Homo sapiens: one gene and its partner. The protein of the gene in region 1 interacts with the protein of each later gene in a pairwise test. Each region holds a gene or a part of one and is shown on either strand. Other genes may lie near its edges.

The links.
Region 2: the proteins of MORC3 (region 1) and RNF216 interact in binary tests that used the Homo sapiens proteins (3 or more experiments, as listed by UniProt).

Annotation. Positions count from the first base shown.
Region 1 is NC_000021.9:36,332,333-36,347,709, forward strand, and holds part of MORC3 (MORC family CW-type zinc finger protein 3), read left to right. Parts: intron 1-1,313; coding exon 1,314-1,386; intron 1,387-4,541; coding exon 4,542-4,674; intron 4,675-5,399; coding exon 5,400-5,614; intron 5,615-6,441; coding exon 6,442-6,589; intron 6,590-9,066; coding exon 9,067-9,214; intron 9,215-12,246; coding exon 12,247-12,375; intron 12,376-12,579; coding exon 12,580-12,699; intron 12,700-15,377.
Region 2 is NC_000007.14:5,733,312-5,748,688, reverse strand, and holds part of RNF216 (E3 ubiquitin-protein ligase RNF216), read left to right. Parts: intron 1-6,873; coding exon 6,874-7,716; intron 7,717-9,336; coding exon 9,337-9,413; intron 9,414-15,377.

The DNA of each region.
Region 1 (15,377 bases):
GTCTGAGGCAGGAGAACCGCTTGAACCCAGGAGGCGGAGGTTGCAGTCAGCCGAAATTGTGCCACTGCGTTACAGCCTAGGTGACAGAGTGTGATTCTGTCTCAGAAAAAAAATAGGACAGGCTTCAGAACCGGAACAGGTTCTAAGCACTCTGGCCTGCAACGTGATCAGGCAATATTTATGGACAAAACAAAAGTGAGATACAGAAATAGTTTAATTGGTTGCAGCTTGGCATTTTGCCTTATTTAAATCAGCTGGTGACCTGTGATTGACCGAAGATGGGATTCTGTAGTTGACTGAGACTCAGCTGTTTGTTACTGGAGTACAAATTGCCCTAAGTTAGAAGAATTTGTACAGTTAGTTTTCATACTATTAGGTTGTAGTTCCTTATGTACTGACTCGAGTATGGAGGCATCCTCAGGCCAAGTTTAGTTTAGTTTAACAATTGGAACTCTTTCTTTTTTTTTTTTTTTGAGATGGAGTCTCGCTCTGTTGCCCAGGCTGGAGTGCAGTGGCACGATCTTGGCTCACTGCAAGCTCCATCTCCTAGGTTCATGCCATTCTCCTGCCTCAGCCTCCCGAGTAGCTGGGACTACAGGCGCCCATCACCACGCCCAGGTACTTTTTTTGTATTTTTAGTAGAGACGGGTTTCACCATGTTAGCCAGGATGGTCTCGATCTCCTGACCTCGTGATCTGCCCGCCTCGGCCTCCCAAAGTGGTGGGATTACAGGCATGAGCCACTGCGCCCGGCCAACAATTGTAACTCTTATTTGAATTCTTTGAAGAGTTTGTAGATGTATACTACTACACTGCTACAAGTTCAGCTATAATGAACTTGGAGTAAATAATGAAGTCACAGTGCCAGAAAAACTTAGTGATCAAGCACAGTTAAGTTTATTAGGCCTGATACACGTAGGAGAAAGTGCCTCCTTGACAAAGTCTTAGTTGTGTCTCAGAATAGAGAAATTAGGAAATGGTGTTTATAGGATTTTAGGGCCTTGGCTGGATCATTTTAAGGTAGGTCTTGGCAAGGTATGTCCCTATTTGGGATTGGACAGTTATGACATTGTAGACATAAAGAGGGCAAGGGTTTTGAACCAAGTCTTGGTGAGTAAGCTGTTTAGTTGGTTCCCAGTGTTATCTTCCAAGAATCGTATATTCTAGATTGTATCTTCCAGATGTATCCTGGAGCAAGCAGCTAAGTCACTTTTGTTTGGTCTCAATGTTGTTTAACACAGGGATAAAAATACTGGTTTTTATTTTCAAAAGTAAGACCTGAATTAATTTACATGGACCTTTTGTTTGTTTCAGCTTTGCCCGAAGTTTTTACATACAAATTCTACTAGTCACACCTGGCCATTCAGTGCAGTTGCTGAATTAATAGGTATGTAGTTTGACATTTCATATACCATTTGTTGCTTACAATTGTAGTGTTTTTTTTTTTGTTTTGTTTTGTTTTTTTTTTTTAAACAGAGTCTCTCTCTGTCGCCCAGGCTGGAGTGCAGTGGCGCAGTCTCGGCTCACTGCAAGCTCTGCCTCCTGGGTACACGCTATTCTCCTGCCTCAGCCTCCTGAGTAGCTGGGACTACAGGCACCTGCCACCACGACCAGCTAATTTTTTTGTATTTTTTTTTAGTAGAGACGGGGTTTCACTGTGTTAGCCAGGATGGTCTCGATCTCCTGACCTCGTGATCCGCCTGCCTCAGCCTCCCAAAGTGCTGGGATTACAGGTGTGAGCCACCGCACCCGGCCTACAAAAATATTTTAAAAATCAGCTGGGTATGGTGGTGCAGGCCTGTGGTCCCGGCTACTCAGGAGGCTGAGGTGGGAGGATCACGTGAGACCGGGAAGTTGAGGCTGCAATGAGCCGTGATTGTGCCATTGCATTCCAGCCTGGGCAGGCGACAAAGCAAGAAAAAAAACAGATACCTTGAATGATAACATTAATGATAAAAATTGCATAGCATAACAGCTATTCACATGGATGTCAGATTAGTCACTGTTCAGCTTTCTCTTTAATACTACCCAAGTATTTCATAGTGTTTAGGATTTACTTTGCTAAGTTCCTGAAGTGTTTATATTGAAAATATTTTTATTTTTATTATAAAAGTAAACAGTGAGAATTATGGGGAATTTGTTTGCTTATTTTGAGATGAGGTCTCACCATGTTGTCCAGGCTGGTCTCAAACTCCTGGGCTCAGGCGATCCTCCCACCTCAGCCTCAGGAGTATCTGGGATGACAAGTGTGCACCACAGTGACTGGCAGAATTATGTTTATTAGTAGTACAAAAGTATGTGTAACATACAGCATGGATTCATTTTTCTGGTATCAATAGGAGGATTGGTATTGTGTTAGATATGTAATAAGTTCTTGCTTCTTTCAATAAATGGGAAGTTTAAGGTTTAGGATTGTATTTTAACAGCATTTCAATGAACGTGAGAAAGCGGCAAGGTTGCGGTCTGATTTGCATTTATGGGTCATGATTTTTTTCTTGGGAAAAATTCATGCATAGGCTGGGCACACAGTTGTTCACACCTGTAATCCCAACACTTTGGGAGGCTGAGGCAGGAGGATCACATGAGCCCAGGAGTTGGGGCCCACCCTGAGAAACATAGTGGGACCCCATCTCTACAAAAAATACAAAAATTCGCCAGGGTGGTGGTGCACACCTGTAGTCCTAGTGACTCGGGAGTCTGAGGTGGGAGGATCACTCGAGCCAGGGAAGTCAAGGCTGCAGCAGAGTGAGTCTTCCTCCAGCCTGGGCTACAGTGAGACCCTGTCTCCAGAAAAAAGGAAAAGAAAAAGAAAAGAAAAATTCATGCACACAAACATAAGCCTAATTGAAAAATTTAGGCATATGTTTAAGAAACAGATAATAAAGGGAAATTGTATTCTTAGGAATTCTTAGATATATTTTAGAATCTTTATCAAGGAAGGGTTCTATCATAGATGGAAGATAAAAGAAAAAGAAGGAATTTTTTTTTTTTTTTTTTTTTTTGAGGCAGAGTCTCGCTCTGTCACCCAGGCTGGAGTGCAGTGGCACAGTCTCGGCTCACTGCAACCTCCTCTACCTCCTGGGTTCAAGCACTTGTCCCTCAGCCTCCCGAGTAGCTGGGACTACAGGCACATGCCACCGCTCCTGGCTAATTTTTGTATTTTTAGTAGAGACAGGGTTTCACCATATTGGTCAGGCTTGTCTCGAACTCCTGACCTCAGGTGATCCACCCACCTCTGCCTCCCAAACTGCTGGGATTACAGGCATGAGCCGCTGCGCCCAGCCCTATTTTTCATTTTTAAACGTATTTCTTCCTACACCTATTCTGAGAGAAATGAGTATGCTAAACAAGGATGTTAAATGGAGAAGTATACAGAAATAAAAATGTAAAAGCCACCAGAAACTTGGTTTAACTTGGTTAAACTGAAAAGGATCACAATTTAAAGAAATAGTAGAAAGTAAATCTTCCATCCTTGTATGTAACTTAGCAGAAAATGTTGCTGCCTTTTCATTTATTTATTGATTATTGTGTACCTTCCATTGACACTCAGATCTCTTTCCCCTACAATAGCCAGGTTAGTCTCTCTCTTTTTTTCTTTTTTTTCCATTTTTGAGACGGAGTCTCGCTCTTGTTGCCCAGGCTCGAGTGCAATGGCGCTATCTCAGCTCATTGCAACCTCCGCCTCCTGGGTTCAAGCAATTCTCCTGCCTCAGCCTCCTGAGTAGCTGGGATTATAGGTGCCCGCCACCATGCCTGGCTAATTTTTTTTTTTTTTTTTTAATACAGATGGGATTTCACCCTGTCGGCCAGGCTGGTCTCAAACTCCTGACCTCAGGTGATCTGCCCACCTCAGCCTCCCAGAGTGCTGGGATTACAGGCGTAAGTCACCATGGTCAGCTTTTTTGTTTTTGTTTTTGTTTTTGTTTTTGGAGACAGAGTCTTGCTGTGTTGCCCAGGCTAGAGTGCAGTGGCACGATCTCCGCTCACTGCAACCTCTGCCTCCCAGGCTCGAGCGATTCTCCTGTCTTAGCCTCTGGATTAGCTGGGACTATAGGCATGTGCCACCATGCCTGGCGGATTTTTGTATTTTTTAGTAGAGATGGGGTTTCACCATGTTGGCCAGGCTGATCTCAAACTCCTGACCTCAGGTGATCTGCCCGCCTCAGCCTCCCAAAGTGCTGGGATTACAGGCGTGAGCCACCACATGCAGACTTAGTCCATCTTTTAATCATCTCTGCAGTGTAGTGATTTTTCTTCCTTTGTACTTCTTTGGTGTGCTGGGTACCAGTCTTTGCTGTCTCTTTAACATGGAGGGTGTTAATTCTATAATAGTCGATTAATATATACCAGGATGCAGTTTATTTTCATGTTTTTAAATCTTATTTTCATGTTTAAAATCTTTAAATTTTAAAGCTGCTAAAAATTGCAGCTTTTAAAGTTGTCTTAAAACATAGTCTTCTATTGCTTCTTACAGGATTGTTCTGAACTAATTGCTCTTTTTAAAGTGTAAAATCAGAATTTCTTCAAACTTGTGTTTCCCAGATAATGCTTATGATCCTGATGTGAACGCTAAACAAATATGGATTGACAAAACAGTGATAAATGACCATATATGCTTGACATTCACCGACAATGGGAATGGTATGACTTCTGATAAATTACATAAAATGCTAAGGTAGGTAAAAATGTGCCACACTTCTTAAAATTGTTGCTTTTACCTAAAGGGTTTTCCATGCCATACTTACTATTCTTGGTTTTTGTTTTTTGAAATGAAATGCTGTATGTACAGTGTGAGCTGTTCTCTAAGCATGATTTTCTACTACTGGTAGATGATGAGTCAGTCTTCACCACTGTCATCACCTACCCCACCCTACTTCCAACTCCCTAAAAGTCCACCATTCCTTTAGAGTTGTAGTATATTTATATCAATTACTGATAACTTTAGTGTAAATTAGGTTTAACCATTGTTTGTAATAAAACCTACCACTTTGTTGGGAGTAACTTTTAGAGGAAGAGATTCATGGGGTGAAATCTCACAGTCCCGGAAGCATGGGTTATACTCAGCTATTTAGTCAGGGTGTGCCAGCGATGAGTTTGCATGTTAGTACTTGTGATCCTTTTTCTCCCCTGTGATGTAGATTTGGTTTCCTTATTTCAGAGCTGGGAAAACACGTCAAGATAGATTAAAAGTAATCTGCCCGATACATAAAAAATCAACAACAACAAAAAAGTAATCTGCCCAAGATTATACAGCTAGGAAGGGTGAGGCCAGTATTTGAACCCAGGCTTTTTACTTGGTATTACAATTAATGAATTAAAAAAAAAGATTATAGGTATTTATTTATTTATTTATTTTTGATTATAGGTATTTATTTTTAAAAATCTTTATTTTCTTCTTAGCTTTGGCTTCAGTGACAAAGTCACCATGAATGGTCATGTCCCAGTTGGATTATATGGGAATGGCTTCAAGTCGGGTTCTATGCGTCTGGGTAAAGACGCAATCGTTTTTACCAAAAATGGAGAAAGCATGAGCGTGGGCCTTTTGTCTCAGACCTACTTGGAAGTCATAAAAGCGGAGCATGTTGTTGTTCCAATAGTGGCATTCAACAAGCACCATATCCTTTTGGTTGTGAAATAAAAGCTGTGGAGAAACTGAAGAAATAATTTGGAAACATTCTATGTTTTTGCCTTCTTCCAGATTATTCCCTTTGAATAACACCTATTCCATTTCTTACCTCTGTCCTCTGCATTTACCCTACACCTGAGGCTAAGGGTTTGTCCCTTTCTCTTCTCTGTTGGAATCCTGCTATGGAAATACTCAACATTTTATGTTAAACTTCCCATAGCTCTTCTGTTTACTTCAGGGTTATTGTAGACTAGTAAGACTTTATGGTTTGGCTTGAAAATTTGACTAGTGACCACAAAAGGCAGGATAACTTTAGGAAAATGCCTTTTGTATGAACACATTGGAATATTAGAAAGTATTAAGTTAGTTAGGAATAATAATCTGCTTATTTTTTATTCTTCTTCTTGTTCATTTGAAATCAAACTGCCATGTTAAAACTTAGAAAATAGGCTGAGCTCGGTGGCTGATCCCTGAAATTCCACCACTTTGGGAGGCCAAGACAGAAGGATTGCTTGAGCCCGGAATTTTGAGACCAGCCCAAGCAACGTAGGGAGACCCTATCTCTACAAAAAAAATTTAAAAATTAGCCGGTCGTGGTGGTGGGTGCCTGTGGTCGGTCCCAGCTAGGCTGCAGTTAGCCCTGATCATGTTACTGCACTCTAGCCTAAGCAATAGTGAGACCCTATCTCACAAAAAAAAAAACCTTAGAAAATTATTTATAAATAGTTTTTCTGTTATTTAAGTTTATAGAGTTAGTTTTCATATTGTAATTATGAAAACTATGTTGTCAATCTGAGTCTTTAACTTATGATATACGACAGATGATTAATTTAGCAGAATCAAAAGCCAGCCTTGCTGCAATTCTGGAACATTCTCTGTTTTCCACGGAACAGAAGTTACTGGCAGAACTTGATGCTATTATAGGCAAGAAGGGGACGAGGATCATCATTTGGAATCTTAGAAGGTAAACGTGGACATAGATGTTGACCGTTTGGGAAGTAAAGTGCACGTGCAGGGTGGTGGTGTTATATTCATCTCTCGTTACACACAGTAGAAATACATGGAAAGGTACTCATTTTTTGGTGTAGTTACTGATTTGTCTTTGCCCAGGATATGTTATAGAGGCCATTTCAGCTTCAATTTGAGATATTTTCATCTTGTTAAAAAAAATTTTTTTTTGAGACGAAGTCTCACTCTTGTTCCCCAGGCTGGAATGCGATGGCGCAATCTCAGCTGACTGCAGCCTCCGCCTCCTAGGTTTAAGCGATTCTCCTGCTTCAGTCCCCCGAGTAGCTGGGATTACAGTCGCCTGCCACCATGCCCGGCTAACTTTTGTATTTTAGTTGAGACAGGGTTTCACCATGTTGGCCAGGCTGGTCTAGAACTCCTGACCTCAGGTGATCCACCCGCCTTGGCCTCCCAAAGTGCTGGGATTACAGGCGTGAGCCACCACACCCGGCCAAAAAAAAAAATTTTTTTCTATCCCTGCCATTCAGTCTCCATTAGCACTCTATTCTCTCTCATTTATTCCACCCCGTCTTCTCAAAAAAAAAAAAAAAAAAAGAAAAAAGAAAAAAAGCAATGAGAAGACAAATTCAGGAGGATAAATCTTTCTTCATTGTGTACATTACTTAAAACTAAAAGTGATGTAGCACCTGATGAGAAAAGTAATATAGGTGAGATTTTTGTGTTGCTAAAATTTATAATCCTTTATCTTTGTGAGGATAAAATCCTTCGCAAATAAATTTTAAAATTTAAGACTAATGTCTAATACTGAAAGATCTAAGACATACTGAATCACAGGAATAAAGCACAGGTAGTGATAAGCCTAAAGAACTGAAAAAACTTGTGCTATTCTGATACCTGAATTCGTTTTTCTTGCTTTCACTTCCCTACCCCTCCTTCTCCTGGAGGATTTTTTCAATTATACTTTCTGAGGTAATTGTAGATTCATGTGTAGTTGTAAGAAGTAATAGAGAGATGTTAGGTACACTTCATTCAGTTTCCCCTGCTGGTAACATCTAACAAAACTATAGTACAGCCAGGCACACTGGCTCACACCTGTAATCCCAGCACTTTGGGAGGCTGAGGCGGGTGGATCATGAGGTCAGGAGATCGAGACCATCCTGGCTAACACGGCGAAACCCTGTCTCTACTAAAATTACAAAAAATTAGCTGGGCGCGGTGGCGGGCGCCTGTAGTCCCAGCTACTAAGGAGGCTGAGGCAGGAGAATGGCGTGAACCAGGGAGGCGGAGCTTGCAGTGAGCCGAGATAGCACCACTGCACTCCAGCCTGGGCGAAAGAGCGAGACTCTGTCTCAAAAAAAAAAAAAAAAACTATAGTACAGTAGTACTATTGATATTGACAGGATTTTGATGTTGATACAGTCAAGATGCAGGACACTTTAGTCATCACAGGAATCCCTCATGTTGCTCTTTTGTAGCCATACCCACTTCCCTCATAACCCCACTCCCTCCTTAATCCGTGGCAACCTCTAATCTGTTCTCTATTTCTATAATTTTGCCATTTTAAGAATATTACATAAACAACATGGAAACCTTTTGGATTTGACTTTTTTCACTTAGCATAACTCCTGGCGTTTTCCAGGTTCTTGTATGTATAGTTTGCACCTTTTCCTTTTTCTTTTTTTTTTCTTTCTTTTCTTTTCTTTCTTTCTTTCTTTTTTTTTTTTTTGAGATAGCGTTTTGCTCTTTCCCCCAGGGTGGAGTGAAGTATAGCGCCATCTCGGCTCACTGCAACCTCCGCCCACCGGGTTCAAGCGATTCTGCTGCCTCATCCTCCCGTGTGGCTGGGATTATAGGCACCTGCCACCATGCCTGGCTGATTTTTGTGTTTTTAGTAGAGACAGGGTTTTGCCATATTGACCAGGCTGGTCTTGAACTTCTGACCTCAGGTGATCCACATGCCTCAGCCTCCCAAAGTGGTAGGATTACAGGCGTGAGCCACTGCACCCAGCCAGTTTGCACTTTTTTCTTGCTGAGTAGTGTTTCATTGTATGTATGGAACCCAGTGTGTTTACCTATTCAAGACATCTAGGTTTGTAGTTTTGGGATATTACAAATAAAGCTGTAAACATTTGTGTACACAGTTTTGTGGGAATATAGTCTTCATTTTTCTGAAATAAATATCTAGAAGTGTAATTGCTGTATCATATAGTACTTGCATTTTATTTTCTAAGAAATGCCAGACTGTTTTCCTGAGTGTTTTCCTACCAGCAGTGTATGAGTGTTACAGTTTCTCCACATCATCCAGGATCCGTTTTCTTTCTTTTTCTCTTGCCTTTGCACCCCCAACCCCCCACTGACGTGCACCATGTGTAGGTTTATTTATTTGCTTACCTTTTTAATGACTTACAGTGTTTGCTGGCTTATCTTGCTGTGAAGTTAAATTTTGGTTCTTTCTAAAAATTATTTTTACAGCTACAAAAATGCAACAGAGTTCGATTTTGAAAAGGATAAATATGATATCAGAATTCCCGAGGATTTAGATGAGATAACAGGGAAGAAGGGGTACAAGAAGCAGGAAAGGATGGACCAGATTGCCCCTGAGAGTGACTATTCCCTGAGGGTATGTATTCAGCTCTCTTTGTGGAAGTGAGAAAATCATTGAATGCTGGTAGTATTAGGAGAGGTCATGTTACCTGCTTGTGATAGAAAGGCTGCCAGTGCTCTCTAAATGAAAGTATCTCAGACATGATTTTCCCTGGCCCACTCAGCCTGGGCAACAGAGTGAGGCTGTATCACACACACACACAAATTTAGTTAAACTTTTCATTAGCACACTGGTTGATTTATTTGTTTGGAAACCCTTTTTAAATTATGAAGTCGTCAGGCCTAACAATGCTTGTAGTTTTTACTATATGCTGACATTATTATCTTATTAGAATCAATATATTAGTCAGTATATGGTGGCCAGACTAATTCAAAAAACAACAAATTCAAAGTCTTATTAAATTTTAACGTATTTGCCCGTGCACGGTGGTTCACACCTGTAATCCCAGCACTTTGGGAGGCCAAGGTGGGTGGATCACAAGGTCAGGAGTTCAAGACCAGCCTGGCCAAGATGGTCTTGAACTCCGTCTCTACTAAAAATGCAAAAATTAGTTGGGCACGGTGGCAGGCACCTGTAATCCCAGCTACTCGGGAGGCTGAGGCAGGAGAGTCGCTTGAACCTGCAGGTGGGGCAGTGCGGTTCACGGAGGTTGCAGTGAGCGGAGATTGTACCACTGCACTCCAGCCTAGGTGACAGAGTGAGACGCCATCACACACACACAAAAAATTTAACGTATTCTAGAATACATACCTTAATTGTCCTCCTAAAGCAATAAATTATAGACTATAGTTAGATAAGGTACATTAATATAATTTTGTGATAAATGCCTCTAGGATTTTCCCTTTAGAAATGAGGTTTTTGTTTTTTTGTTTTTCTTTTTGGAGATTAGGTCTTTGGGTGTCACTCTCTCACCCAGGCTGGAGTGCAGCGGTGAGATCTCAGCTCACTGCAGCCTCTGCCTCCTGGCCCCAAGCAATCCTTCCACCTCAGCCTCCTGAGTAGCTGGGACTGCAGGCGTGTGCCACCACACCCGGCTATTTTTTTGTATTTTTGGTAGAGACGATGTTTCACCAAGTTGTCCAGGCTGATCTCAAACTCTTGGTCTCAAGTGATCCACCTGCCTCAGCCTCCCAAAGTGCTGGGATTACAGGTGTGAGCCTCTGCACCTGGTCAAAATGAGTATCTGTTTAAGATTAAAAGAAATGGGCTAGGCACAGTGGCTCACACATGTAATCCCAGCACTTTGTGAGGCAGAGACGGGTGGATCACCTGAGGTCAGGAGTTGGAGACCAGCCTGGCCAACATGGTGAAATCCTGTCTCTACTAAAAATAGAAAAATTAGCTGGGCACGGTTGCGGGAGCCTGTGATCCCAGCGGCTTGGGAGGCTGAGGCAGGAGAATCCCTTGAACCCGGCAGGCAGAGGTTGTGGTGAGCCAAGACCGCACCATTACACTCCAGCCTGGGCAACAAGAGTGAAACTCTGTCTCAAAAAATAAAAATAAAAAAAAGATTGGAGAAATTAATATCTTGATATAATAATGTCGATAAATTAATATCAAGGTTTTTTTGTTTGTTTGTTTGAGACGGAGTTTTGTTCTTGTTGCCCAGGCTGGAGTGCAATGGCATGATCTTGGCTCACCACAGCCTCCACCTCCTGGGTTCAAGGGATTCTTCTGCCACAGCCTCCCAACTAGCTGGGATTACAGGCATGCGCCACCATGCCCGGCTAATTTTGCATTTTTAGTAGAGACAAGGTTTCACCATGTTGGCCAGACTGGTCTCGAACTCCCGACCTCAGTGATCTGCCTGCCTCGGCCTCACAAAGTGTTGGGATTACAGGTGTGAACCACCGTGCCCGGCCAATATCAAGTTTTTTAGTTGTTTTGATAAGACATGTGATACTAACTTTTTGCTTTCTTTTTTTTTTTTTTTTTGAGACAGAGTCTCACTCTGTTGCCTAGGCTGGAGTGCAGTGGCGTGATCTCGGCTCACCACAACCTCCGGCTCCTGGGTTCAAGCGATTCTTCTGGCACAGCCTCCTGAGTAGCCAGGACTACAAGCATGCACTACCCTGCCTGGCTAATTTTTGTATTTTTAGTAGAGACAGGGTTTCACTATGTTAGCCAGGCTTCTCTTGAACTCCTGACCTCGTGATCCGCCCGCCTCGGCCTCCCAAAGTGCTGGGATTACAGGAATGAGCCACCTTGCCTAGCCACTTTTTGCTTTATTTCTTGTGTTGATATTATTCTTTAATCCCAAGCTGTGGATGTATTTGTCATTTACAGATTTTTCATGTAATTTTTGCTAAGGTCTTAGCAATTACATTATTAGTAATAGTAATAGTAAATAGTAGTATTACTATTTACTAAAATAGTAAATAGCAGATATTTACTGTTCCTTGATGTATCCTAATGTGTTCCTAGTGTTGAAAAAGTCTTATTCAAGTATGAAACAGGTTCAGAGGCAGCCAGAGAAGATGGTATGGTTTTAGTACACTACAAAATACAGTGTTTTTTAAATGACGCAAAGCACCACTTCTTTTGAAATCAAGAGTCAGGAAAAGTAGGAGAAGCTTTTAAGTTTTAGTTTTGTGTTGAATCTTTTTTTTTTGAGGTGGGGGGGTCTCCCTCTGTCCCCCACACTGGAGTGCAGTGGTGTGATCTCGGCTCACTGCAGCCTCCGCCTCCATACTTGACAGAAAAATCAGAAAATGTACCTTTTTGTACATATATACATTTTTTAAAATTAAAATGTGATCATACCATACGTGCTGTTTTGTAATCTTTTTCACTTAGTAATAAATATATCAGCATCTATATAGATCAGTTGATTGTATTCTGCAAGTCATTTTTACTGGCTGCGGTATATTGAGCTTATTTTTAATGAAAAATAACCAAATCAGAATAACATACAGCTTTATAGCCTATTTTATTGAAGAGTTAATTGATCTTTTATCAAGTTAATAGGAGAGCTTCTGTGTAAATCCATGTCTAAGTAATGGTGAGCAAACCTGTAGATACTAACTTCTTGTTATGTTATTTTCCAGGCTTATTGCAGTATATTATATCTAAAGCCAAGAATGCAGATCATCCTACGTGGACAGAAAGTGAAGACACAGCTGGTTTCGAAGAGTCTTGCCTACATCGAACGTGATGTTTATCGACCAAAATTTTTAGTATCCTTTTTCTGATTCCTTATAGAGATATGTTAGTCAGGTGTATTCTCTTTTGCCCCTTTCCCCTTATATGCTGATAGGGATTCTAGTCTGCTCTAGCTTTGCCCTCCTTTGTGTGCTTTTGGACTTACCAAATAATGAAATAGAAAGGATGATTTGAACTGAGTGAGGTGTTGTGTTCAAAATTTACCTTAATATTTTAAGTCTAAAACAGTGAGAATTACCTTTGGATTCAACTGCAGAAATAAAGATCATTATGGGATAATGATGTATCACAGAAATAGACTCATCAAAGCTTATGAAAAAGTTGGATGTCAGTTAAGGGTAAGCTTTATTTTTTATTTGAAAAGAAAATGTCTATTTTCCACAAAAGTTAGGATAATATATGCTCTTGAGTCAAATGTTAAATAATTTTATTGTACCTTTTGCCTATAGCTTTTTAATGTAAATTTGTAAAAAATAACACTGTGGTATTTGAACTTTTATTAACTCCCCTCCCCTCCCCTCCCTTCCCCTCCCCTGCCCTGCCCTCTCCTTTCCTTTCCCTTCCTTTTTTTTGAGACGGAGTCTGAGTCTTGCCCAGGCTTCAGTGCAGTGGCACAATCTTGGCTAAACTCACTGCCATATTCACCTTCTGGGTTCAAGTGATTCTGCTGCCTCAGCCTCCCAAGTAGCTGGGACTACAGGTGCATGCCACCACGCCTGGTTTTTTTTGTTTTTTGTTTTTTTTTTGAGACAGAGCCTTGCTCTGTCGCCCAGGCTGGAGTGCAGTGGCGATATCTCGGCTCACTGCAGCCTCTGCCTTCTGGGTTCAAGCAATTCTCCTGCCTCAGCCTTCCAAGTAGCTGGGACTACAGGCACGTGCCGCCACGCCTGGCTAATTTTTGTATTTTTAGTAGAGGTGAGGTTTCAGTGTGTCAGCCAGCATGGTCTTGATCTCCTGACCTGGTGATCTGCCTGCCTCAGCCTCCCAAAGTTCTGGGATTACAAGCGTGTGCCACCGCACTCGGCCAGTTGTTTTGTATTTTTAGTAGAGACGAGGTTTCACCGTGTTGTCCAGGCTTGTCCCAAACTCCTGACCTCAGGTGATCCACCCGCCTCGGTCTCCCAAAGTGCTGGGATTACAGGTGTGAGCCACCGCGCCCGGCTTTATTTTTATTTTTTGAGAGACTCTACCTGGCTGGAGTGCAGTGGCGCAATTTTGGCTCACTGCAGCCTCTGACTCCCAGGTTCAAGTGATCCTCGCACCTTAGCCTCCTGAGTAGCTGTGACTACAGGTGCATGCCAGCACCTTAATTTCTTTTATTTATTTATTTGTTTGTTTATTTTTTGAGATGGAGTCTCACTCTGTCACCCAGGCTGGAGTGCAGTGGTGTGATCTCAGCTCACTGCAACCTCCACCTCCCTGGTTCAAGCGATTCTCGGGCCTTAGCCTCCCAAGTAGCTGGGACTACTGGCGTGTGCCGCTATGCCAGGCCAAATTTTGTATTTTTAGTAGAGACGGCTTTACCATGTTGACCAGGCTGGCCTCAAACTCCTGAACTCAAGTGATCCACCCACGTCGGCTTCTCAGCGTGCTCAGATTACAGGCCTGAGGCAATGCGCTCGGCCTAGTATATTAATTTTGTATTTGATCCTGAACAGCCCTGAGGTGGGGACAGAATATTTCTTTTATCCCTATTTTATGCATAAGGAAGTTGGGGACCAGACACAGTGGCTCATTCCTGTAATCCTAGTGCTTCGTGTGGCTGAGGTAGGAGGATTGCTTGAGGCCAGTGCTTCAAGACCAGCTTGGGCAACATACCAAGTCTCTACCTCAGCTGAGTACGGTGCCTTACACCTGTAATCCCAGCATATTTGAGAGGTCTGGGCCGGGGGATTGCTTGAGCCCAGGAGTTCAAGACCAGCCTGGGCAATGGGGCAAAACCCTGTCTGTACAAAAAAATACAAAAATTAGCTGGGCCTGGTGGTGCATGCCTGTGGTCCCAGCTACCAGGAGGCTGAGGTGGGAGGATTGCTTGAGCCCAAGAAGTTGAGGCTGTAGTGAGCCAAAATTGTGCCTCTGCTTTTCAGTCTAGGCAACAGGGTGAGGTCCTATCTCAAACAAACAAACAAACAAAAATCGTCTCTACAAAACAATAAAAACAAATTAGCCAGGTGTGGTTGTACGTCCTTGTAGTCTTAGTTATTTGGGAGGCTGAGGTGGGAGAGTGCTTGAGCCCTGGAGTTTGAGGCTACACTGAGCTATGATTTTTGCCCCTGTACTCCAGCCTGGGCAACAGAGTGAGACCCTGTCTCTTAAAAAAAAAAAAAAAAAAACAAAGAAATTGGGGCAAATAACAAATAGATGAAGCAAGTTGCTTAAGACATAACAGCGTGGATCTCAGACACAAACACATCATTTGACTGCATTTGGATATGGATCCATTGCATATTTTTAAGATTTTGGTGATAATTCTTTGTCTTAACTTTATTCTGAGTTTTTTGTAGAATGATGTGAGATCTACACAGTATACCAATGCAGATTCACCTTGAATACCACTTAACAGGGGTTCTGACTCTGCTTCACCTACTTTACATGGCATGAGCCCAAATATAGCATATTTGCAGAAGTAAATGAACTTTATGTCTACCACAGAATGTAAATTTTTTTCTTTTTATCACCTATGAATCTGACTTAACCAAGATATATAGCCCATTTTCCCAACCGAGTTAAATTTGTACTGTACATATTTCCTAGTTAAGCTCGACCTTGTAAAGATAGGCTGTTACAGCTAAATTACAATGTTTATCTTTACCAGATGATGGACTGGGCCTAGTATTTGCATTCTGTGGATTCGGTAAACATTAAATAAGTATCAGATACCCATTGTGATTTGCTGTGCTGGGTGCTCAGCATAAAAAGTTGGTAAAATACAGAGCATGCCCTCAAAGCTCAGTTTTGTGAGGGGACTGTGGAACATCCTTGGAAGCATCAGAAAAGGCTTCTTAGAGAAAGTGTT
Region 2 (15,377 bases), on another chromosome or scaffold:
CATGGTTAACATGCTTTAGTTAGTATATTATGTGTGTGTGTGTGTGTGTGTGTGTGTGTGTGTGTGTGTGTGTGTGTATGTATATAAAAAATATACTGCATTCTTATAATAAAGTAAGCTGAGGAAAGGTTAAGAAAATCATAAAGAAACTGGACACGGTGGCTCACGCCTATAATCCCAGCACTTTGGGAGGCCAAGGCCAAGAGTTCAAGACCAGTCTGGCCAAGATGGTGAAACCCCGTCTCTACTAAAAATACAAAAATTAGCTGGGCATGGTGGTGAGCACCTATAATCCCAGCTACTTGGAATTTAGCTTGTTTCTTAATGAGTTACTGACTTCAGGACTGCCAAAGACTAACCAGAGCTTCCCTGGGGTAGAGTTTCAGCATTAAAATGAGGTGGAATTTGGCTTTTTCCTTCAAAAGGTGAACTGTAGGGCACAAAGACAGTTTGTGTGCAGCCTCTATAAGCTGGCAGAAACTGGTTTAAGATCTATATGTAGTAGTTCATCAGAAAACGATGTTTGTAAGGCCAGTCCTCTGTCTGTGTTAAGAGTTGTAGTGGGTTTCTGGGTTGTAAATCAGAGTTAGGGAGGGGTCTGATATTTGCCTGATACCGCCTATTGGTATGGAGCTTAGCAACAGTTTGATTTTTCTTGGAGCATAGGAATTTAGGGAGTTGCTATACCAGTCACCCTGAACCCTGACCTCATAGGTGATTTTTGTTTCCTTAACCTTAAGGGTCAGGGCAGACACAGTGGCTCAAAACCTGTAATCTCAGTCCTTTGAGAGGCCTAGCAGGAGGATCACTTGAGCTCAGGAATTCAAGGCTGTAGTGAGCTATGATTGTGCCACTATACTTCAGCCTGGGACCTTGTATCTAGTTATTATTTATTTTTTCTTTTTTTTTCCCCTTTTTTTTTTTTTTTTTTTTTTTTTTTTTGAGATGGAGTCTCCTGTTGCCCAGGCCAGGATGCAGTGGTGCAATCTTGACTCACTGCAACATGCACGTCCCAGGTTTAGTGATTCTTGTGCCTCAGCCTCCAGAGTAGCTAGGATTACAGGTGTGTGCCACCGTGCATGACCTTTGTCTCTAATTTTTAAAAAACAGACAAAACCTTAGGATCTGTCTTAGTTTATAAAGGGGCATCTATTTTGCTTTCAGATAACACCGTAGAGCTGAAACATTTTGGAAATGGCTTTCTAAGGGTCACGTCTGATATTTCAGGCTTTGCCTGGCCCATAAGTAGACTGGATAGTACTTGTCAGGTCCTGAATATCATCCTCAGGAAAATAATATTCTGCTTCTGCTGCTTTTATCCGTTTTTACTCCCTCTCCTTCCCCTGGTCCCACCATGTGTTAGCTGGTAATAAGTCAGGTATCCTAGGATCATAAGTTATAATTAAGACTCTGAATTCTTTAAAAAATGTCTGAAAGTCTTCCCCAGGTTTAGGACATTTTTAAACTATGACCTGTTTTTATCCGTAGCATGTAAGTCAGGAATTTCATGCTACATTTTCAGGTTGTTCTGTTTTATAAGGAAACAGTTGAACTGTTCTTTTCAGAGAAGAAAGGCAACTCAGAGTTAGTAGACTGTGAATATTCAGGAGTAGATGCAGTATTCAGGTAAAATGGGAGCAGTAGGAGTTACATTAGTTTATCTGTCTTTGGTGTGGGAGGTAATCTTGCGTTTCTAGTTTTTCATTAGCTTTTTGCAGTTAATCTTTCAAAAAAGCTATTTTAGAATTCTGTTGTCTCTTTGAGGCTTCTGAATGCCAGTAAGAATCTCGTTCTCTCCGTGTAATTTGGAGTCTTAGGATTCAAGTGAATTTCTTGGATGAACACTCTTTTTCATCTGGAACATTCCACATCATGGTCATCATAATTCTGAATTATTTTTGGTAAAGTTTTGCCACTTGTGTAACTATTTGTAGCTTCTGGAGCCAGAAGTTTTATACATGAAAAGGCAAGACTACCAGAAGGCAGAGTACTCCAATTTTTAGAAATTAGGGATGCTGTTTTTATGTTGGACCTTGTATATCTCAGGACCGGGATGACGTTGGCTCCAAGATGTCCTACCTAGCCAATCACTTTGCAGTTTCCATCTGACTCAGTCAAGACACCTGAGGCCTCCCTCACCTAAGCCTGCAAGAAAAGGAATCCACATACCCACAGATTCCAAAAGCCTGAGTTTATACCCTCCCTGCACTCAACACAGCTGGTATCAGTTAGCTTTAAAACTGCACCCCTGTATGCTAGCAGCAAATGGAGTTGCACCCACATTTCTGTCTGGCCATAATCTTGGGGGCTTGACTCAAGCCGTAAAGACCTCTGCAAAGAGGGAGCAAAAAATACAGTTATTGCCAGTGATTTGTGAGCCCCCACATTCCCAAAAGTCCTGTGCCCTGCCATAGCCCAGATTAACCCTAGGTACTGCAAAGTCAAATGCTCTCTCACAGTGCAGCCTAACCTTGGTACCCTCAAAGTCAAAGAGACCAGGTGCTAAAAAGACAGCAGAGCTCAGACCTGAGAAGGACTTCCGACACTTGCAGCTCCATGAGGAAAACGTTACTTCCCAAAAAAGGGAGTTAGCCGTTTTTCCTGTGTTCCTTGAGTTACCTCAAGATATCAACAGTCTCTGTCCCTTTGGGTTGCCAGACCTGTCAAAGGACAAAATTACAACAAATTTAGTGTAAGGATCTCAACTGTCTTTATTGTGAGTCTAGCATCAGGCAATGCTTCATTCCAAAATGGAGAGTAAGTGTTCTCGTTGCTCTTTTTTTTTTTTTTTTTTTAAGACAGTCTCAATCTATCACCCAGGCTGGAGTGCAGTGGCCTGATCTCGGCTCACTGCAACATCCCGAGTTTAAGCAATTATCCTGCCTCAGCCTCCCGAGAGTAGCTGGGATTACAGGTGTGTGCCACCACACCCGGCTGATTTTTGTGTTTTTAGTAGAGATGGGGTTTCACCATGTTGGTCAGGCTGGTCTCTAACTCTTGACCTCAAGTTATCCACCCACCTCAGCCTCCCAAAGTGCTGAGATTACAGGCGTGAGCCACCGTGCCCTGCCCTTGTTGCTTTTTACATTAATTTTATACTCAATCACCTTACCATTATTATCTGTAGTGATTTTTCAGTTGACTCTTAATTTCTTGAAAACGTGCATCTGATCTGTCTTTCCAATTTTTATGCTTCTTTCACGTGTCTAATTATATTACGGTACTTCCTCAAAAATTTTAATAGTGTTGATAGAGAAGAGCACGAATGGCCACAGACATAAATGGGAATACTTAATGTTTCTTCATTAAATGTGATGGTGCCTTTTTGCTTTAGATACCATTTCTTTAGTTATGTTAAGGAACTAGTCATTTACTTTGACTTAAAAAAATTTTTTTAGAAGTGAATGTAGGATTCTGTTACATTCAATTTCAGCATCTTACAGAGATTGTCATGTGGTTTTTCTTCCTTGACCTCTTAGTTGGTAAGTTATTGTCTTTGAAAAGACTCCCCTTGGTTGTGGCATTGTAATGTAGTAGTAATGTGCTGCTGGGGATTCCATTTGCTAATATTAGTGTTTTCTCCGTAGATCTTACAGGTGGAGATTGGCCCGTAGGTTTGTGTGTACGTATGATATCCTTGACATGTTTATTTTTTTATAAGCATGATTCTGACTTCATAAAAAGTTTAGAAGTTTTCTTTTTTTTTTTTCTTTTTGGAGATGGGAGTTTTGCTCTGTCACCCAGGCTGGAGTGCAATGGCGCGATCTTGGCTCACTGCAACCTCTGCCTCCCAGGTTCAAGTGATTCTGCTGCCTCAGCCTCCCAAATAACTGGGATTACAGGCATGCGCTACCACTCCCAGCTAATTTTGTAGTTTTAGTAGAGATGGGGTTTCACCATGTTGGTCAGGCTGGTCTCAAACTTCTGACCTCAGGTGATCCATCTGCCTCAGGCTCCCAAAGTGCTGGGATTATAGGCATAAGCCAACCGTGCCTAGCCAGAAGTTTTCTTTATTTCTTCGAGGGTTGTTTTTTGTTTGTTTGTTTGTTTTGTAGAGTCTTCAGAACCAATGTATTCTTTGAGGTTTTGAATATATTCTATAGAATTAAACAAAACAGACTGTTGTTCTACTTTGTCTTAATCTGTGACTCCTTATGTTTTTTCCCTTATTTAGTTCGAATGGTTATTTGAACTAACCATTATGTGTCCCCCTCCTTCCCTTCCCTCCCTTGTTTTCCTTCCTCCTCCTCTACCAAAGAAACAGCTTCTTCTCTTCTACAACTCCAGTTATGTGTTTTGAAGACCTTTTTGTTCTTGACGTGTTCTCTTATCTAATGTTGCATTTTGTCTATGCCTTACTATGGCTATTCTGACCTGGCTTTCAATGCACTAATTTCTCTCTTCAACTGTATTTACTTAAAATGCTATATATCCATATGTAGCATTAGTTATTGTATTTTTAGTTTTTGTATTAGTTATTGTATTTTTCCATTCTGGAATTTGCGTTCGATTCTTCTTCTTCTTGGCTGCAGTTCTCAATCTAGTCTTTGATTTCCCTAAACATGCTGTTACTTTAGAATTCATGTTGTTAATTTCACTGTGTGAAACCCTTGTATATTTGTTTCTGTTGTCTGTTACTTCTCTTGTTTTGATTTTCTGTTGCTGCATTAAGTTCTTGTATGCCTAGTTATTTTTGATTGAGTGTAAGTCATTGTATATGAAAATTTTGGGATTCTGTATGATGTTGTTTCTCTATAGAGGATCTTAATTGGTTTCTTGAAGAAGAGTAAGAGCACCAGCACCTCACATTCAGGGAGTTAAACTCTCCACGCTGCGATTCAGTTCCTGGGAGGTCCAGGGTATTTCCAGCTTGGCCCTTACTTCAGTGGCATAGTCCTCAGGGACCCACCCTAAAGCCTGAGATTCACCATCTCCTTTCTTCTAGGGACTTCCCAGAGGAACTGTTGTTACCAGTTTAGCATGTATCCTTCCAGGTCTTTTCTTTGAATTTGTATGTATCCATGTGTATATACATGTGGGTACATATACATACTTTTAGAAATGATTTTGTTTGTGTCTTATTGACATATTTTAAGTAAATGGAATCATTCTGTGTATGATTTTGCAGCTTGCTTTTCTTCACTTAATGGCATTTCTTAGTGAAGCTTCCCATTTCAGTACAGACTGAGCTACCTCTTTTTTTGGTAGGGGTCAGTTGTAGAGTATTTTGTAGAACAAATAAGTAATAGTTTATTTAACCATTCACTCAGGGACAAACTTCACAATGTCTCTAGGCTTTTTTCTGTTTATGCTGAATATTCTTGTATATGCCCTTTTTCGATAGAGTTTATAGAACAGTATGAAAAAATGATGACAGACATACATTTTTTATTTATATTTATGTATTTGTGTATTTATTTATTTATTTGAGACAGAGTCTTGCTCTGTCTCCAGGCTGGAGTGCTGTGGTACCATCTTGGCTCACTGCAACCTCTTGACTCCCTGGTTCAAGCAATTCTGCTCCGTCAGCCTCCCGAGTAGCTGGGATTGCAGGCACACGCCACCATGTCCAGCTGATGTTTGTATTTTTAGTAGAGACGGATTTTCACCATGTTGGCCAGGATGGTCTCGATCTCCTGACCTCGTGATCCGCCTGCCTTGGCCTCCCTGAATGCTGGGATTACAGGCATGAGCCACCACGCCTGGCCTACGTTTTTTATTTTAATAAATAGTGCCAAATTTCTCTCCTAAATTCACCAGCAGTAAATGATAGTATAAGAATTTTCACACATCGGCCAAGCGCGGTGCCCCACACCTGTAATCCCAGCACTTTGGGAGGCTGAGGTGGGCCAGTCATCTGAGGTCAGGAGTTCAAGACCAGCCTGGCCAACATGGCAAAACCCTGTCTCTAACAAAAATAGAAAAATTAGCTGGATGTAGAGGTGTGCGCCTATAATCCCAGCTACTCGGGAGGCTGTGGCAGGATAATTGCTTGAACCTGGGAGGCAGAAGTTGGAGTGAGCTGAGATCATGCCATTGCACTCCAGCCTGGGCAATAGAGCGAGACTCTGTCTCAAAAAAAAAAAAAAAAAAAAAAAAAAAGATTTTTCACCATCCTCACCAATGCTTGGTATTATCTAATTTAAAAGTTTGCCGGTCTTACAGGGAAAAAAATACTGTCTTGTTTTAATTTTTCATTTTGCTAGTTACTAATGAGATTTAGATTTTTTTATATGTTTTTTGAACATTTCTTATTCTTCTGATGTGTTAGCATTCTTTCATTGTTGTATCTGCTGTGGAGTTATTTTTGTTTTAGTAGTCTCAGGTTAAATTATAATTCAGGGCTGGGTTCAGTGGCTCATGCCTGTAATCCCAGCACTTTGGGAGGCTGAGGGAGGCGGATCACTTGAGGCCAGGAGTTTGAGACGAGCGTGGCCAACATGGCAAAACCCCATCTCTCTTAGAAACACAAAAATTAGCTGGACATGTTGGCACATTTTTGTAATCCCAGCTACTTGGGAGGCTGAGGCACAAGAGTTGCTTGAGCCCGGGAGGCAGAGGTTGCAGTGAGCCGAGATCGCACCATTGCACTCCAGCCTGGGTAGCAGAGGAAAACTGTGTCTCAAAAATAAAAATAAATTATAATTCAAACTATATCTCAAGCTTTAATCTATGAATGACTACTTTGATTCTTACAGATAGTATATAGTGTAATCAAATTTCAGTGTTAAGATAAATGTAAAGAATAGGTATTGTTAAGGGAGATGGTGTTTTTGTTTCTTTCCTGTCCTATCTCGGAAGCTCAATATAAGTACATAAGGAGGGATAGGCATAGGAAAGAAATTGAATTATTAAAATTTCATTTTTTCTTAGACAAATAAACCTCAGAGATCACGACCCAATCTCATCAAACCAGCTGCCCAGTGGCAAGATCTGAAAAGGTTGGGAGAAGAAAGGCCTAAAAAGTCTAGAGCAGCATTTGAATCAGATAAGAGCAGCTATTTTTCAGTGTGTAACAACCCATTGTTTGATTCTGGGGCACAGGATGATTCTGAGGATGACTACGGTGAATTTCTGGATCTTGGGCCTCCTGGAATCTCTGAATTCACTAAGCCAAGTGGCCAAACAGAAAGAGAACCCAAGCCTGGACCGAGTCATAACCAAGCAGCAAATGACATTGTCAACCCCAGATCAGAGCAGAAAGTCATCATCTTGGAAGAAGGTAGCCTTCTTTACACAGAAAGCGATCCTTTGGAAACTCAGAACCAGTCATCCGAAGACTCAGAGACAGAGCTGTTATCAAATCTAGGAGAGTCAGCTGCTCTAGCAGATGATCAGGCCATCGAAGAAGACTGCTGGTTAGATCATCCTTACTTCCAGTCTCTGAACCAACAGCCCCGTGAAATAACAAACCAGGTCGTTCCTCAGGAACGGCAGCCTGAAGCAGAACTGGGCCGCTTGTTGTTTCAGCATGAATTCCCAGGGCCCGCTTTTCCAAGGCCGGAACCCCAGCAAGGTGGGATTTCAGGCCCCTCTTCTCCTCAGCCTGCCCATCCTCTAGGAGAGTTTGAAGACCAGCAGTTAGCAAGTGATGATGAAGAGCCAGGTCCAGCCTTTCCAATGCAAGAATCTCAAGAGCCCAATTTGGAAAACATTTGGGGGCAAGAAGCTGCAGAGGTAGATCAAGAGCTCGTTGAACTACTAGTGAAAGAAACGGTAAGTTTTATTTTATCAAGTAAATGTAGACACTACATATACTGAGTTTTTTTCTTTTTTTTTTTTCATTGCAAAAAAAAAAGTTGTTGGTATGCGTGGACTTCATTTTCCTAAGAAGTATATATCTAGATGTACAGAATAGAAGAGACACTCTGAAGACATGAAAATGGAATCAGGGTTCCTTTACTATACTTAACCTTCAGGAAGCTCTCTGGGATTCTAACTGCATATCATGGTGGCCTGGTGCTGTCATACCTGCAGTCCCTTGTTTTTTTCAAATTCCTTGAGTTCACTCCAAATGGAAACCCTTAAAGCAGTTTTATTGAATTACCTAGACCTATGCTGTCCAATATGGCACTTACTAGCTCCTTGTGGCTGTTTACATTTAAATGTCTTACAGTTAAATAAAATTTTCCAGTGGCATCAGTCACATCTTAACCTTAGTAGCCACATGAGGCTAACAGCTTACCTCATCATCAAGCATGGAGGACAGTGTTTCTGTCATCCAACAAAGTTCTATTAGTGGTGATATTAAGAGTAACACAAGGGCTGGGCGTGCTGGCTCACACCTGTAATCCCAGCACTTTGGGAGGCCAAGGTGGGTGGATCACAAGATCAGGATATCAAGACCATCCTGGCTAACACGGTGAAACCCTGTCTCTACTAAAAAAATTAAAAATTAGCCGGGCGTGGTGGCGGGCGCCTGTAGTCCCAACTTCTTGGGAGGCTGAGGCAGGAGAATGGTGTGAACCCAGGAGGCAGAGCTTGCAGTGAGTCAGGATCGTGCCACTGCACTCCAGCCTGGGCGACAGAGTGAGACTCTATCTCACAAAAAAAAAAAAAAAAAAAAAAAAAAAAAAAAAAAAAAGGTGTTACATCTGGTAGCCACTATTTGCCTTCAAACAAGTCCGTTAACCCTACTTTACCCAGGCGGGTTTTTTTTGTTTTGTTTTTGGTTTGTTTTTTTTTTGAGACCGAGTCTCACTCTGTCACCCAGGCTGGGGTACAGTGGTGCGATCTCAGCTCACTGCAACCTCCGCCTCCTGGGTTCAAGCGATTCTTCTGTCTCTGCCTCCCGAGTAGCTGGGATCACAGGCACATACCACCACGTCTGGCTAATTTTTGTATTTTTTTAGTAGAGACGGGGTTTCACCATGTTGGCCAGGCTGGTTTTGAACTCCTGACCTCAGGTGATCCGCCTGCCTCGACCTCCCAAAGTGCTTCGATTATAGGCATGAGCCACTGCACCCGGCCACCCAGGTGTTTTTATCTAGGCACTAGGTTGTGTGCTGCTTGAGGGCTGGCATGAGATTGTAACTTATTTGTGTTTGGATTCCCTTTGTCTAGACAGAGATGCTCAATATTTGTTGAAGCAATGAAGAATGGATCTGTAAAATGGGGACAGAGAACCAGATCTCTCAAGACCTTTCTAGACCTCATCTTCTATGTAGACAGATGAATCTGGGAACTAGTGTTGAATTTGAAGACACACACAGACCTGCTTCACAGCCCTTTTCTAGTCTTTAGTCATTTTATTATACTTTTTGCCATCTGTCTTGTATTGCCATTTGAAACCATTCTAGTGAATGAAATATAAATTATGTTCTTATTTGTTTCTAGGAAGCAAGATTTCCAGATGTAGCAAATGGGTTTATTGAGGAAATAATTCATTTTAAGAATTATTATGATCTGAATGTGTAAGTATACTACCATGCTTTTTTTGTGGTGGTGGTGGTGGTGGTAAAATATATGTAATAAAAAATTTACCATTTTAATCATTTTTAAATATACAATTTGGTGTTGTTAAGTAAATTCACATTATTATGCAACTATCACCACCATCCATCTTCAGAACTCTTTCATCTTCTCAAACTGAAACTCTGTCCGCATTAAACACTCACTCCCCATCCCCTTCCCAAGCCAGTGGCACCCACCATCCTACTTTCTTTCTATATGGATTTGGCTACTATCAGGGACCTCATGTGTTTGTTCTTTTCTGACTGGCTTATTTCACTTGGCATTATGTCTTTTTTAATGACCTTGTTCGTTCTGACATTAGTGATACACAGACTGTTTTCTGGATTTTATGGAATACTGCATGGTTATAGAATTATGATAACTGAGTTGTTTCTAAGCGTTGATACTACCTGTGTTTTAGTCAAGATGTTAAGACATTTTCTTCCCTACGATTGTAACAAAATGTTCTGCAACCACTCTGTTTGGAGAAATACATGGAAGCATTTTTTTTTTTTTTTTTTTTTTTTTGAGACGGAGTCTCACTCTGTCTCCCAGACTGGAGTCCAGTGGTGCGATCTCGGCTCACTGCAAGCTCCGCCTCCCAGGTTCAGGCCATTCTCCTGCCTCAGCCTCCCGAGTAGCTGGGACTACAGGCGCCTGCCAGCACGCCTGGCTAATTTTGTGTATTTTTAGTAGAGATGGGGTTTCACCATGTTAGCCAGGATGGTCTCGATCTCCTGACCTCGTGATCCACCCGCCTCGGCCTCCCAAAGTGCTGGGATTACAGGTGTGAGCCACCGCTCCCAGCCATATTTCTTAATTTTCATTATAAAAGGGATAAATACGGGCCAGACATATGGTTCACACCTTTAATTCTGGCACTTTGGGAGGCTGAGGCAAGAGGATTGCCTGAGTCCAGGAATTCAAGGCTGCAGTGAGCTGTGTTACGCTACTGCACTCCAGCCTGGGAGCCAGAGTGGGACCTTGTCTCTTATTTTAAAAAAATTTTTTATAAGTGGTAAATATGCTTTTTTAAAAAATAAGTTTTCCTGAAGAATATAAAATGAAAAATATACTCTTTCCCCTCCTTCTAATCTGCAGAGGTGAAATAATTGTAATTTTTTTTTTTTTTTTTTTTTTTTTTTTTTGGAGACAGTCTTATTCTGTTGCCCAGGCTAGAGTGCAGTGGTGCGATCTTGGCTTAAACAGCAGTCTCCACCTCCCAGGTTCAAGCAGTTCTCCTGCTCAGTCTCCTGAGTAGCTGGCATTACAGGCGTACTCCACCCTGTCCGGCTAATTTTTGTATTTTTAGTAGAGACAGGGTTTCATCATGTTGGTCAGGCTGGTCTTGAAACCCTGACCTCATGATCTGCTCACCTCCACCTCTCAAAGTGCTGGGATTACAGCCATAAGCCACCGTGCTCAGCCTGGTGGTAAATTTAAACAAAATAGTTCACTAAACACCTTTCCCCAAAGTTCCTATCTTATACTGTAGTTCTCAGTCAAGGTTGCAGGTGAGTTTCTTCCCTGCCAAGGCTGAGAAGGAAGGGCCCCTTTCCAGGTGCTTAGCCCAATGTAGGTACTTTTTTCTAATTTGTACAATGACACTGTTGGAGCCATTAGTGGCCTTGTCTGATCCCACCTCTGTACAGAGGCAACCACTGTCATCAGATTTATATTTATTTATTTATTATTATTATTATTATTATTATTTTTAATTGATCATTCTTGGTTGTTTCTCGCAGAGGGGGATTAGGCAGGGTCACAGGACAATAGTGGAGGGAAGGTCAGCAGATAAACAAGTGAACAAAGGTCTCTGGTTTTCCTAGGCAGAGGACCCTGGGGTCTTCCGCAGTGTTTGTGTCCCTGGGTACTTGAGATTAGGGAGTGGTGATGACTCTTAACAAGCATGCTGCCTTCAAGCATGTGTTTAACACAGCACATCTTGCACCGCCCTTATTCCATTTAACCCTGAGTGGACACAGCACATGTTTCAGAGAGCACTGGGTTGGGGGTAAGGTAATAGATCAACAGCATCCCAAGGCGGAAGAATTTTTCTTAGTACAGAACAAAATGGAGTCTCCTATGTCTACTTCTTTCTACACAGACACAGCAACAATCTGATTTCTCTATCTTTTCCCCACATTTCCCCCTTTTCTATTCGACACAGCTGTCATCGTCATCATGGCCCGTTCTCAATAAGCTGTTGGGAACACCTCCCAGACGGGGTGGCGGCCGGGCAGAGGGGCTCCTCACTTCCCAGAAGGGGCAGCCGGGCAGAGGTGCTCCCCACCTCCCGGACGGGGCGGCTGCCGGGCGGAGGGGCTCCTCACTTCCCGGACGGGGCGGCTGCCGGGCGGAGGGGCTCCTCACTTCTCAGATGGGGTGGCTGCGGGGCGGAGGGGCTCCTCACTTCTCAGACGGGGCGGCCGGGCAGAGACGCTGCTCACCTCCCAGATGGGGTCGCAGCCTGGCAGAGGCGCTCCTCACATCCCAGATGGGGCGGCGGGGCAGAGGCGCTCCCCACGTCTCAGATGATGGGTGGCCCGGCAGAGACGCTCCTCACTTCCTAGAAGGGATGGTGGCCGGGAAGAGGCGCTCCTCACTTCCCAGACTGGGCAGCCGGGCAGAGGGGCTCCTCATATCCCAGACGATGGGCGGCCAGGCAGAGACGCTCCTCACTTCCCAGACGGGGTGGCGGCCGGGCAGAGGCTGAAATCTCGGCACTTTGGGAGGCCAAGGCAGGCGGCTGGGAGGTGGAGGTTGTAGCGAGCCGAGATCGCGCCACTGCACTGCAGCCTGGGCAACACTGAGCACTGAGTGAACGAGACTCCATCTGCAATCCCGGCACCTCGGGAGGCCGAGGCTGGCAGATCAGTCCCGGTTAGGAGCTGGAGACCAGCCCGGCCAACACAGCGAAACCCCATCTCCACCAAAAAAAAATACGAAAACCAGTCAGGCGTGGCGGCGCGCACCTGCAATCACAGGCACTCGGCAGGCTGAGGCAGGAGAATCAGGCAGGGAGGTTGCAGTGAGCAGAGATGGCAGCAGTACAGTCCAGCTTCGGCTGGGCATCAGAGGGAGACTGTGGGGAGAGGGACAGGGACAGGGACAGGGAGAGGGAGAGCTATTTATTTATTTTTGAGACGGAGTCTCACTCTGTCACCTAGGCTAGAGTGCAGTGGTGTGATCTCAGCTCACTGCAGCCTCCATCTCCCAGGTTCAAGTGATTCTCCTGCCTCAGCCTCCCAAGTAGCTGGGATTACAGGCATGCGCCATCATGTCTGGCTAATTTTTGTGTTTTTAGTAGAGACAGTTTCCCTATGTTGGCCAGGCTGGTCTTGAACTCCTGACCTCAGGTGATCCATCTGCCTCGGCCTCCCAAAGTGCTGGGATTACAGGTGTGACCCACTGCACCTGGCCTTCCCTTAATCTTTATCAATTTTACTTAACATGCTTGTCAGTAAGGCAAAACCGTTAAGAGTGTACACTACCAGGCCATAGATTGGTGGTGTTGGTCAGTTCTGGAAATTTTGTAGCTGTTTCCTGTCTTCTGTAACTCTTCTCCCACAATCTCCATGTCTCTAAGTCCACCTCTTTGTCTCTGAGATGCGTTCTGGATGATTTCTTCAGGGGTGTTCTTTTAGCCCACAAATTTCTCTTCAGTAGAGTGTAATCTCCTTTTAACTCATCTACCGTGTTACTGGTTTTCAGTTATGAAATTTTAGCTTTTAATTGTCTTGGTTATTTTCCTAGAGTTTTGCTCTTTGCCTATATTTTTAATCTTTTTTTAATTTCTTTAACCAATAAACATAGCTTCTCTGTGAGTTTGATTGTTCTGATATGTTAAGTTCTTGGGAATCATATTCTGTTCTTCCTGCTGGCTCCCATGGTGCCTAGTTTTCTTGTGTATTTTCTAAATTTGACTCTAAGCTCATATCTTGAGTTCTTGATAGAGTTGGTTTCTTTAGAGATTATTGCTTTTGCTTCTTTCAAGTCCCCAAGGGCAGTGTCAGTTTGAAACGACTTTAGACTCCTGTCTTGAAGTTTTTGGATTACACAAACTCTTTTTTATTTATTTATTTTTTTTGAGACGAAGTCTCACTCTCTTGCCCAGGCTGGAGTGCAGTGGCGTGATCCTGGCTCACTGCAACCTCCGTCTTCTGGGTTCGAGCGATTCTTCTGCCTCAGCCTCCTGAGTAGCTTGGATTACAGGTGCCCACCGCCCAGCTAGTTTTTGTATTTTTAGTAGAGATAGGGTTTCACCATGTTGGCCAGGCTGGTCTCGAACTCCTGACCTCAAGTTATCCCACTGTCTCAGCCTCCCAAAGTGCTGGGAGACGTGAGCCACCATGCCCTGCAAACCTTTTATTTATTTATTTATTTATTTATTTATTTATTTATTTATTTTGAGAGAGAGTTTTGCCCTTGTCGCCCAAGCTGGAGTGCAGTGGCATGATTTCAGCTCACTGCAACCTTCGCCTCCCAGGTTCAGGTGATTCTCCTGCCTCAGTCTCCCGAATAGCTGGGATTACAGGCATGTGTTACCTCACCTGGCTTGGATTACCCAAACTCTTAAAGCATTTTTTATTTTTCAACGACAGACTCTACCTGGGTATTTAACCTTGAAAGCCATTTGGTTATTTACATGCCAGTTACTCACTCTTCTGAAGCCTTTCCACATATTCTTTATTGTGTATAGTTTTTAAACTTGGTTATTATAGAATATAATATACATAAAGAAAAATGAACAAAGTAAAGATGCACAGCTCAATAATTTATCACAAACCAAACATTTGTGTAACCACAACCCAGAAATCTTCAAGAAATAGAACGTTGCTATCCTTTTTGAACACTACATAAAGATTTTGTATAGTCTATAGTCTTTTGAGTCTGATTTCTTTTCACTCAGCATTATGTTAAGTTTATTCATGTAGGGTAGAACCACAGTTTATATATTTTCCATTGCTAAATGGTATTCCATTTATACCACTTAGCAATGAAATTTTCCATCTACTTTTGATAGGCATTTGAGTTCTGACTGTCACAAATAATGTAGCTGTGAACATTCTCCTGCTTGTCTCCTGAACTCTACTTGCCCCACACCCTGGCATCCACCTTCCTATTGGCTATGTTTGTGTCTTCCAGCAGAATTGTTTGTTGGAGATTTTTTTCCCCTCCTAAGCTTTTAAAATACTTTCTTTTTGGGTTTCTAAGTGGCATGATAATAACTACATTTTTTTAAATTACTAAGCTTTATTTTTTTAGAGCAGTTTTAGGTTTATAGGAAAATTGAGCAGCAATGACTACATTTTTACAATGAAAACTTTCTTGTAGGCTTCTACTCATCTAAAAAGCAACTTATATGTGTGAATTGCTTTAACAACTCTTCGACAATACTGAGTTATGATGTTATTTTTTGTAGTTAACTAGAGTAGGCATGAAGTAGCATAAGTGACATTTCTTTGCTAATTGGCTGTGTTTTTCAAATATTTGTTTACTAATTGTATTTCCCTTGCGTGTGAATTGTTTACTTCTCTCTTCTCTTTGAATTCCTTTTTTTTTTTTTTTTGGTTAATGTTTTCCTGGTTATGAAATGTAATACAGGTTTGTTCATTACAGAAAATGTAAATGATAGAGAAAAGTATAAACTTAGCTCATTTATAGAACAATGATTTGAATACCAGATACCATGTTTTAGTATTTTTTAACAGTTTAACCTCATAGAAATTGAGTATATTCAATGTTTTTCTCTCCTTCTGCAAATGAACATCATGTTTAAATATATCTTCAAGATTGTCTAGAAAAATCACTAAAACGTAATCAAATTGATACCTTCTCTTACAGTTCTGTTCTCCTACTTCCTGAGTCTCACACGTGTACTTATTTTTAGGGACTTGCTGACCCTCTGTGCTTTTTGTGTC